2 linked regions of the Homo sapiens genome follow. The protein of the gene in region 2 purifies or fractionates together with the protein of the main gene of each other region. This does not show direct contact. Each region holds a gene or a part of one and is shown on either strand. Other genes may lie near its edges. The genes, in order: NIT2 and NQO1.

Region 1 (3,820 bases), on a different chromosome or scaffold from region 2:
AAACCTGGGAGGTGGAGGTTGCAGTGAGCCGAGATCACGCCATTGCACTCCAGCCTGGGTGACAGAGCAAGACTCTCTCTCTCAAAAAAAAAAAGAAAAAAAAAATACTTATCAGAATCAAACTGACAAATTGACAGGAGAGGTGGAAAGTAGGTGGGCATTTAAAAATCACCTGAGGTCAGGAGTTCAAGACCAGCCTGGCCAACATGGTGAAACCCCGTCTCTACTAAAAATACAAAAATTTGCCAGACATGGTGGTGCATGCCTATAATCCCAGCCACTTGGGAAGCTGAAAGAAGAGAACAGCTTGAACCAGGGAGGTGGAGGTTGCAGTGAGCCAAGATCACACCACTGCACTCCAGCCTAAGCGACAGAGCAAGACTCCATCTCAAAAAAACAAAAACAAAAACAGAAAATGAAAGAGCATCTAAAAACACCAATGAGGAATAAATCTCACAAATGTTAAACAAAATTATACCCAAAAAACTATAAAAAGAAATTGAGAGAAAGTAAAGAAAGCGTAATAAATGTCAGGATATATACCACATTCATGGACTGGAAAACTTAATACTAAAAAGATATACTTCAAAGAGTTGGGTTAATAGTCCAATGCTGGCTGTTCTTCCAGCAGGTACACAGTAGCTCCTATCAGACCAGTTTTCTTGTGGTTAACTATGAACTCTGGACAAAATAAAAGGCACAACTACTTAAAGCACTGAAGAATGACCAAAACAAAGCAGACAAAATCTGAAGAGAAGAACACAGACATGTGGAAGCAGGGAACAGCCCTGGGTGAACTTCCTGGTGCTATTTACAGCTGCTACCCTGAAGCAAGGTCCCAGTTGCTGTGATAAGTAGTGGTGAAAATGACCCATAATCACACTGGCTTGAAGAACCAGAGCTGGAAACCAAGGGGGGAAATCCTGAAATGGAGAAAGCAAAGAGGGAGAGCCCTAAATTCTGCATATAAAATCTTTCTAAATCTCTGGCTGATCACTGAGTTAAATAGAAGTGGGGCAGAACAACCAGATAGAACAGAGCAGCTAAAGTTGCTGCCCACGTTTCAAAGAAGATAAGAGTTTGGTGTTTGGGTGCGGCCAAGTTAACCATCAGTTAAAACAAAATATTCAACACTTTTTGGAAGACTGTAATAGCATCTTGAATCTCTACAATATATAATCCACTGTACAATCTTAAATTAGTAGATACTCAAAGAAACAGAAGTGTGATCCAAACTGCAAAGAAAAGGCAATCAAATGAACACAGATCCTGCCATGACCCAGATGTTATAATTTTTTTCTTGTTGTTTGCTTGGATATGAGTTTATTTACATCAGGGGCCTTTTAAAGGCCTAATAGTCTCATTCTGTGGCACACAGATGTGATAATTATCAGACTTTAAAGCAGCTATAGAAACTAACTAAGCTCAACACTGTAAAGAAAAATATGCTTTTAATGAACAAATAGAAAATATCATAGAGTAATAAAAACTATAAAAAAGAAGCAAAGGGGTATTTCAGAACTGAAAATTTTAATATCTCAATTTTTTAAAATTTCACTGGGTTGGCTTACGGGAAATTGAAGAAGACAGAAGAAACAGTGAATAAGTCTGAAAGATCAACAGAAATTATCTAATCTGTAGAAGAGAAGGAAAAAGTATTGGAAAGACAAAAACAGAAAAACAGAGCCTGGTGACCTTGGAAAAATATTTAAAAATATAATATACATATACTGGAGCTCCATAAGAAAAAGGAACAGAAAAATATTTAACAAAATAGTGTCAAAAAACTTCCCAAACACAGTGAAAGATTTAAATTTACAGTTTCAAGAAGTACCAAGGAAGGCAAAGACAAAGGAAACCACATCTAGGCATATCAGAGTCAAAATACTAAGAACTAAAGATTATGAAAACACTTGAAAGAAGGAGAGAAAAAACAACAAATTATATCCGAGGGAACAATACAAATTACTACTCACTTCTCATCAGGGAAGAAAAAAAAAAAGGCTAGATAACAACTACTAGTGGAAAAAAAGGAAAACTATCAATCCAAAATTCTATTCCAGCAAAAATATCTTTCAAGAATGAAAACAATGTAAAGATATATTCATAAAGAAAAACTAACAGAATTCCTAGCTAACAGATCCTCAGAACAAAAATTCTAAATGAGATCCTTTGGTCTGAAGGATATACCAGATAGAAGGAGGATCTTCAGGAAGGAAAGAAAAACACCAGAAATGATAAATATTTGGGTAAACATAAAGATTTTTTTCTTCTTAATTTCCTTAAAATACATATGACTATTTAAATCAAGTATTCCTGTTTTGTGGGATTTATAACATATATACATGGAATACAAATGACAACTATAGCATAAAGAATGAGGGCAGGGGCAGTGGGGTAGAAAAATGGACCTATATCATTATAAGGTTCTTAAATTTCACATGAAATGATATAATATGAACTCTTAAGTAGCCTGTGAAAAGTTAAGGATGCATATGATAATTCCCAGGGCAACAACTGGAAAAAAAAAAAAAGCTAAGATGTATAACTAAAAAGCCAATAGATAAATTAAAACAGAACTCTAAAAAATATTCAATTAATCCAAAATAATACAGAAAAGATGAACAAAGGGAAAAAAAAGTAAAATGTCTCTATCCCTAAATTCAATCATATCAATAAGTGCATTAAATATAAATGGACTAACCACTTCAATTAAAAGACACAGATTGTCAGAATAAAGAAAAAATTAAGATACAATTATATGCTGTTGACAAAAGAGATCCACTTAAAATATAAAAACACATATAGCTTGAGAACAAAGAACTGGAAAAACCACGTACCAGCAAACATTAGGCATAAGAAGGCTGGAGTGGCTATAGTGATAGCAGAGATAAAGCAGAATTCAAGACAAGAGGTATTACAAGAAAAAAAAGAGATATTTCATAATGATAAAAGGGTCAACTCATCAAGAAGACTTAATGATACTAAATGTATATGATTTTTTTTTTTGAGATGGAGTCTTGCTCTGTCTTGCCCAGGTTGGAGTGCAGTGGCGCAATCTTGGCTCACTGCAGCGTCCACCTCCTGGGTTCAAGCAATTCTCCTGTCTCAGCTTCCTGAGTAGCTGGGACTATATAGGTGTGCACCACTACACCCAGCCAATTTTGTATTTTTAGTAGAGATGGGGTTTCACCATGTTGGCCAGGCTGGTCTTGAACTCCTGACCTCAGGTGATCCACTTACTCAGACCTCCCAAAGTGCTGGGATTACAGGCATGGGCCACTGCACCTGGTCATGTATACGCATTTAATACTAAAAAGATGGCAACTCTTCCCACAGTGTTCTCTATATATTCAATGAAATACTAATAAAAATTACTATAGGTTGGCTGGGCACGGTGGCTCATGCCTGTAATCCCAGCACTTTAGGAGGCTGAGGCGGGTGGATCATGAGGTCAGGAGATTGAGACCATCCTGGCTAACACGGTGAAACCAAGTCTCTACTAAAAATACAAAAAATTAGCTGGGCATGGTGGTGGGCACCTGTAGTCCCAGCTACTCGGGAGGCTGAGGCAGGAGAATGGTGTGAACCCAGGAGGCAGAGCTAGCAGTGAGCCAAGATTGTGCCACTATACTCCAGCCTGGGTGACAGAGCGAGATTCTGTCAAAAAAAAAATTACTATAGCTTGTTCCTTTGCAGAAATTGACAGGCTGAGTCTAAAACTTATATAAAAATGCAAATGGCCAAGAATAACCACCTGTGCCAATCAGTCAAAACCCTAATACATGTGTGATATAATGAGAGGGACTAGGGAACTTCA
Region 2 (3,820 bases):
GGAGGCGGAGGTTGCAGTGAGCCGAGATTGCACCATTGCACTCCAGCCTGGGCAACAGAGCGAGACTCCATCTCAAAAACAAATAAATAAATAAATAAAATGTTAAAAAATAAAAATTATAATAAATAATAATTAGGGTGACTAAGGTTCATCAGGGACTTCCCATGAGAAAGTCTTGTCTGACCTCTTATCCTAATAAAAGCAGAGTAAGGACTATACCAGGAGGTTTTCTTATCCTTGATTCATGATTTAAAGATATGAAAGGCACATGCCTATAATCCCAGCCTTTTGGGAGGTCCAGGCAGGCAGATCACTTGAGCCCAAGAGTTTGAGACCAGCCTGGGCAACATGGTGAGACCCTATTTGTACAAAAAAATTAAAAAATTAGCAGGGCATGGTGGTGTGCACTGATAGTCCCAGCTATTCGGGAGACTGAGGTGGGAGGATCATTTGAGCCCAGGAGGTTGAGGCAGCAGTGAGCAGAGATCATGCCACTGCACTCCATCCTGGGTGACCGTGAGACCTTGTCTCCAATTTAATTTTTTTTTAAAGCCGTCCTTTGGGGTACTGGCTAGTGGCATGTGGCTTTGATTCTTAGCAACAGGCCTGTGGGTAAAATAAAGGACTTCAAGGATTGGATGTTTTGTAGCTGATTGAATAACTAAAAAAAAAAAAGAGAGAGAGAGAGAAAAAAAAAACACAGCCTGTACCACCCTCCTCGTGGTTTCCAGGATCATATACATTCTATGTTCAATATCAAAAGACTGGCTGGAATTGTAAAAGCAAAGTCATTGAGTACAGTCACATTTATAGGAAAGATCACTGACGAGATGCACGCACAATCCCAGCATTGTCTGCTAAACGGTAAGGCAGCTTCCCGAAGAAGAAAGGCCGTGGTTTGCTGCAGGAACACATTCAGCAGGGTTTCAAAGCCCCCTTCAGCTGGCAGGCTACAATGGCAGAGAAGTCAATGTCTCATGGATTATTCTACAAAGTATTTGGGATTCTTATGGAGAAAGGAGGAGAACTGCAAATTTTGAGAGAGTCCAACAGGAATCGCTAACCGCAGGATTCGCTAACTGAAGGAATCGCTAACTGAAGGAATCGCTAACTGAAGGGGAGACTAAGTACCTGGAAGAAAGCAAGCTCAAGGACTGTACATCATCTCTGCAGCTGCATTTCTTTCTTTCTTTTTTTTTTTTTTTTGAGACAGAATCTCGCTCTGTCGCCATGTCACCAGGATGGGGTGCAGTGGCGCAATCTTGGTTCACTTCAACCTCCACCTCCCGGGTTCAAGTGATTCTCCTGCCTCAGCCTCCAGAGTAGCTGGGACTACAGGCACATGCCACCACGCCCAGCTAATTTTTGTACTTTTAGTAAAGACAGGGTTTCACCATGTTGGTCAGGATGGTCTTGGTCTCTTGACCTTGTGATTCACCTGCCTTGGCCTCCCAAAGTGCTGGGATTACAGGCGTGAGCCACCGTGCCTGGCCTTGCAGTTGCATTTACACATGCAACAGTAATACAGCCAGATTCCCAATATCTGTGAAATCCATGTAATACTGCACCTTTAAAGTAATCACCCTTATTTGCAGAGAATGCAGTAAAGTGGGTAACTGTTTAAGATCTCATAGCTAATTAGGTACATGTCTAGGACAATAAGCACGCAAATGTCCCTGACACCCCTTCCGATGTCCCCCCATACCTGGAATATCACAAGGTCTGCGGCTTCCAGCTTCTTTTGTTCAGCCACAATATCTGGGCTCAGATGGCCTTCTTTATAAGCCAGAACAGACTCGGCAGGATACTGAAAGTTCGCAGGGTCCTTCAGTTTACCTGCAGAGAAGAAAAAGAGAGGCTGGGGCCAGAGGGGCCAAAGCTGGGCCAGAGGACCCACAGGCAAGGAGATCCGCAAAGAACTAATTAAAGAGGGGAGGAGGAACTCCTCCTACCTGTGATGTCCTTTCTGGAAATGATGGGATTGAAGTTCATGGCATAGAGGTCCGACTCCACCACCTCCCATCCTTTCTTCTTCAAAGCCGCTGCAGCAGCCTCCTTCATGGCATAGTTGAAGGACGTCCTCTCTGAGTGAGCCAGTACGATCAGTGCTCTTCTGCCTACAGAGACACACACAAAGCACACACGGAAAACCCATTACCAACCAGCAAACCTTCAGCTACAGGGGAGTTGCAGTCTGTAAAGGAGGGGGCGGCTTTGTTTGACATTAGGTTATTGCATTCCATCTCCTGTAGCCAGAAATGTATTTTCCCCTTAAAAGCACTGAAGATTAAAGGAAGCATTTAAATCAGTGGCTGATTTAATAAATAATGTTGACAACTGGGCTCTGTGGCTCATAACTGTAATCCCAGCACTTTGGGAGGCCAAGGTGGGCAGATCACCTGAGGTCAGGAGTTTGAGACCAGCCTGGCCAACATGGTGAAACCCTGTCTCTACTAAAAATACAAAAATTAGCTGGGTGTGGTGGCAGGCACCTGTAATCCCAGCTACTTGGGAGGCTGAGGCAGGAGAATCACTTGAACTCGGGAGGGGGAGGTTGCAGTGAGCCAAGATTGCACCATTGCACTCCAGCCTGGGTGACAATGGGAGACTCCGTCTCAAAAAAAAAAAAAGATGCTCTGCGTGACCTGTCAGGAAAAGCAAAATTAAAATGAGACATTTACCCATTCGTTTACATGGGTACTGTGTTTACATTTACCGTGAGTTTACATTTACCCACAAAATGTAAAACAAATAACACCCAGGGTTATTAAGATTGTACCAACAGAAAAATTGGCACCTTACTGGTGGGGATAAGAACTGCCTCAACCTTTAGGGAAAGTAATGAGGCAGAATCTCTTGAAACTTTAAAGACACATAAATCTTTTATCTCGCTCTCCAATTTGGGGGAATCTGTTCTACAGACTAAAAGCTTCAGGCTATAAGAGCAAAGATGTGTATTACACCATGCTTTTCACTGGCAAAAATTAGATATAACCTGATTGTCTATGGGGAACATTTTAAGAAATTATGGGTACATCCACACTACAGGATATTTTGCTGTTAACAAGAATGAGTTGGCCAGGCACGGTGGTTCGAGCCTGTAATCCCAGCACTTTGGGAGGCTGAGGCGGGCAGGTCACGAGGTCAAGAGATCAAGACCATCCTGGCCAACATGGTGAAACCCTGTCTCTACAAAAATACAAAAATTAGCTGGGTGTGGTAGCGGGCACCTGTAATCCCAGCTATTCGGGAGCCTGAGGCAGGAGAATCGCTTGAACCCAGGAAGCAGAGGTTGCAGTGAGCTGAGATCTTGCCACTGCACTCCAGCCTGGGTGACAGAGTAAGACCCTGTCTCAGAAAAATAAATAAATTAAGATAAAAGTAAAAAATATATAAAAAAGAATGAGTTAAACTGGCTGGGCACAGTGGCTGGAGCCTGTAATCCAGCTACTTGGAAGGCTGAGGCGGCAAGATCCCTTGAGGCCAGGAGATGGAGACCAGCATGGGCAGCATAGTGACACCTTGTCATAAAAAAAAATTTTTAGAGACTGTTGACCAGGTACGGTTGCTCACGCTTCTAATTCCAGCACTTTGGGAGGCCAAGGCGGGAACATTGCTTGAGCCCAGGAGTTCAAGACCAGCCTGGGCAACATGACAAAAGCGAAATCCCTTCTCTACAAAACGTACAAAAATTAGCTGGGCATGGTGGTGTATGCCTGTAGTCCCAACTACTCAGGAGGCTGAGAGATGGAAGGATCACTTGAACCCAGGAGGTTGAGGCTGCAGTGATCCGTGATCGCCGCACTGCACTCCAGCCTGG

What was found.
Region 1: the proteins of NQO1 (region 2) and NIT2 fractionate together in Homo sapiens (co-fractionation; one large-scale study listed by BioGRID). This does not show direct contact.

What each region holds. Positions count from the first base shown.
Region 1 is NC_000003.12:100,341,234-100,345,053, reverse strand, and holds part of NIT2 (omega-amidase NIT2), read right to left. Parts: intron 1-3,820. UniProt on the Homo sapiens protein: Has omega-amidase activity. The role of omega-amidase is to remove potentially toxic intermediates by converting 2-oxoglutaramate and 2-oxosuccinamate to biologically useful 2-oxoglutarate and oxaloacetate, respectively.
Region 2 is NC_000016.10:69,716,418-69,720,237, forward strand, and holds part of NQO1 (NAD(P)H dehydrogenase [quinone] 1), read right to left. Parts: intron 2,118-3,820; coding exon 1,953-2,117; intron 1,837-1,952; coding exon 1,706-1,836; intron 1-1,705. UniProt on the Homo sapiens protein: Flavin-containing quinone reductase that catalyzes two-electron reduction of quinones to hydroquinones using either NADH or NADPH as electron donors.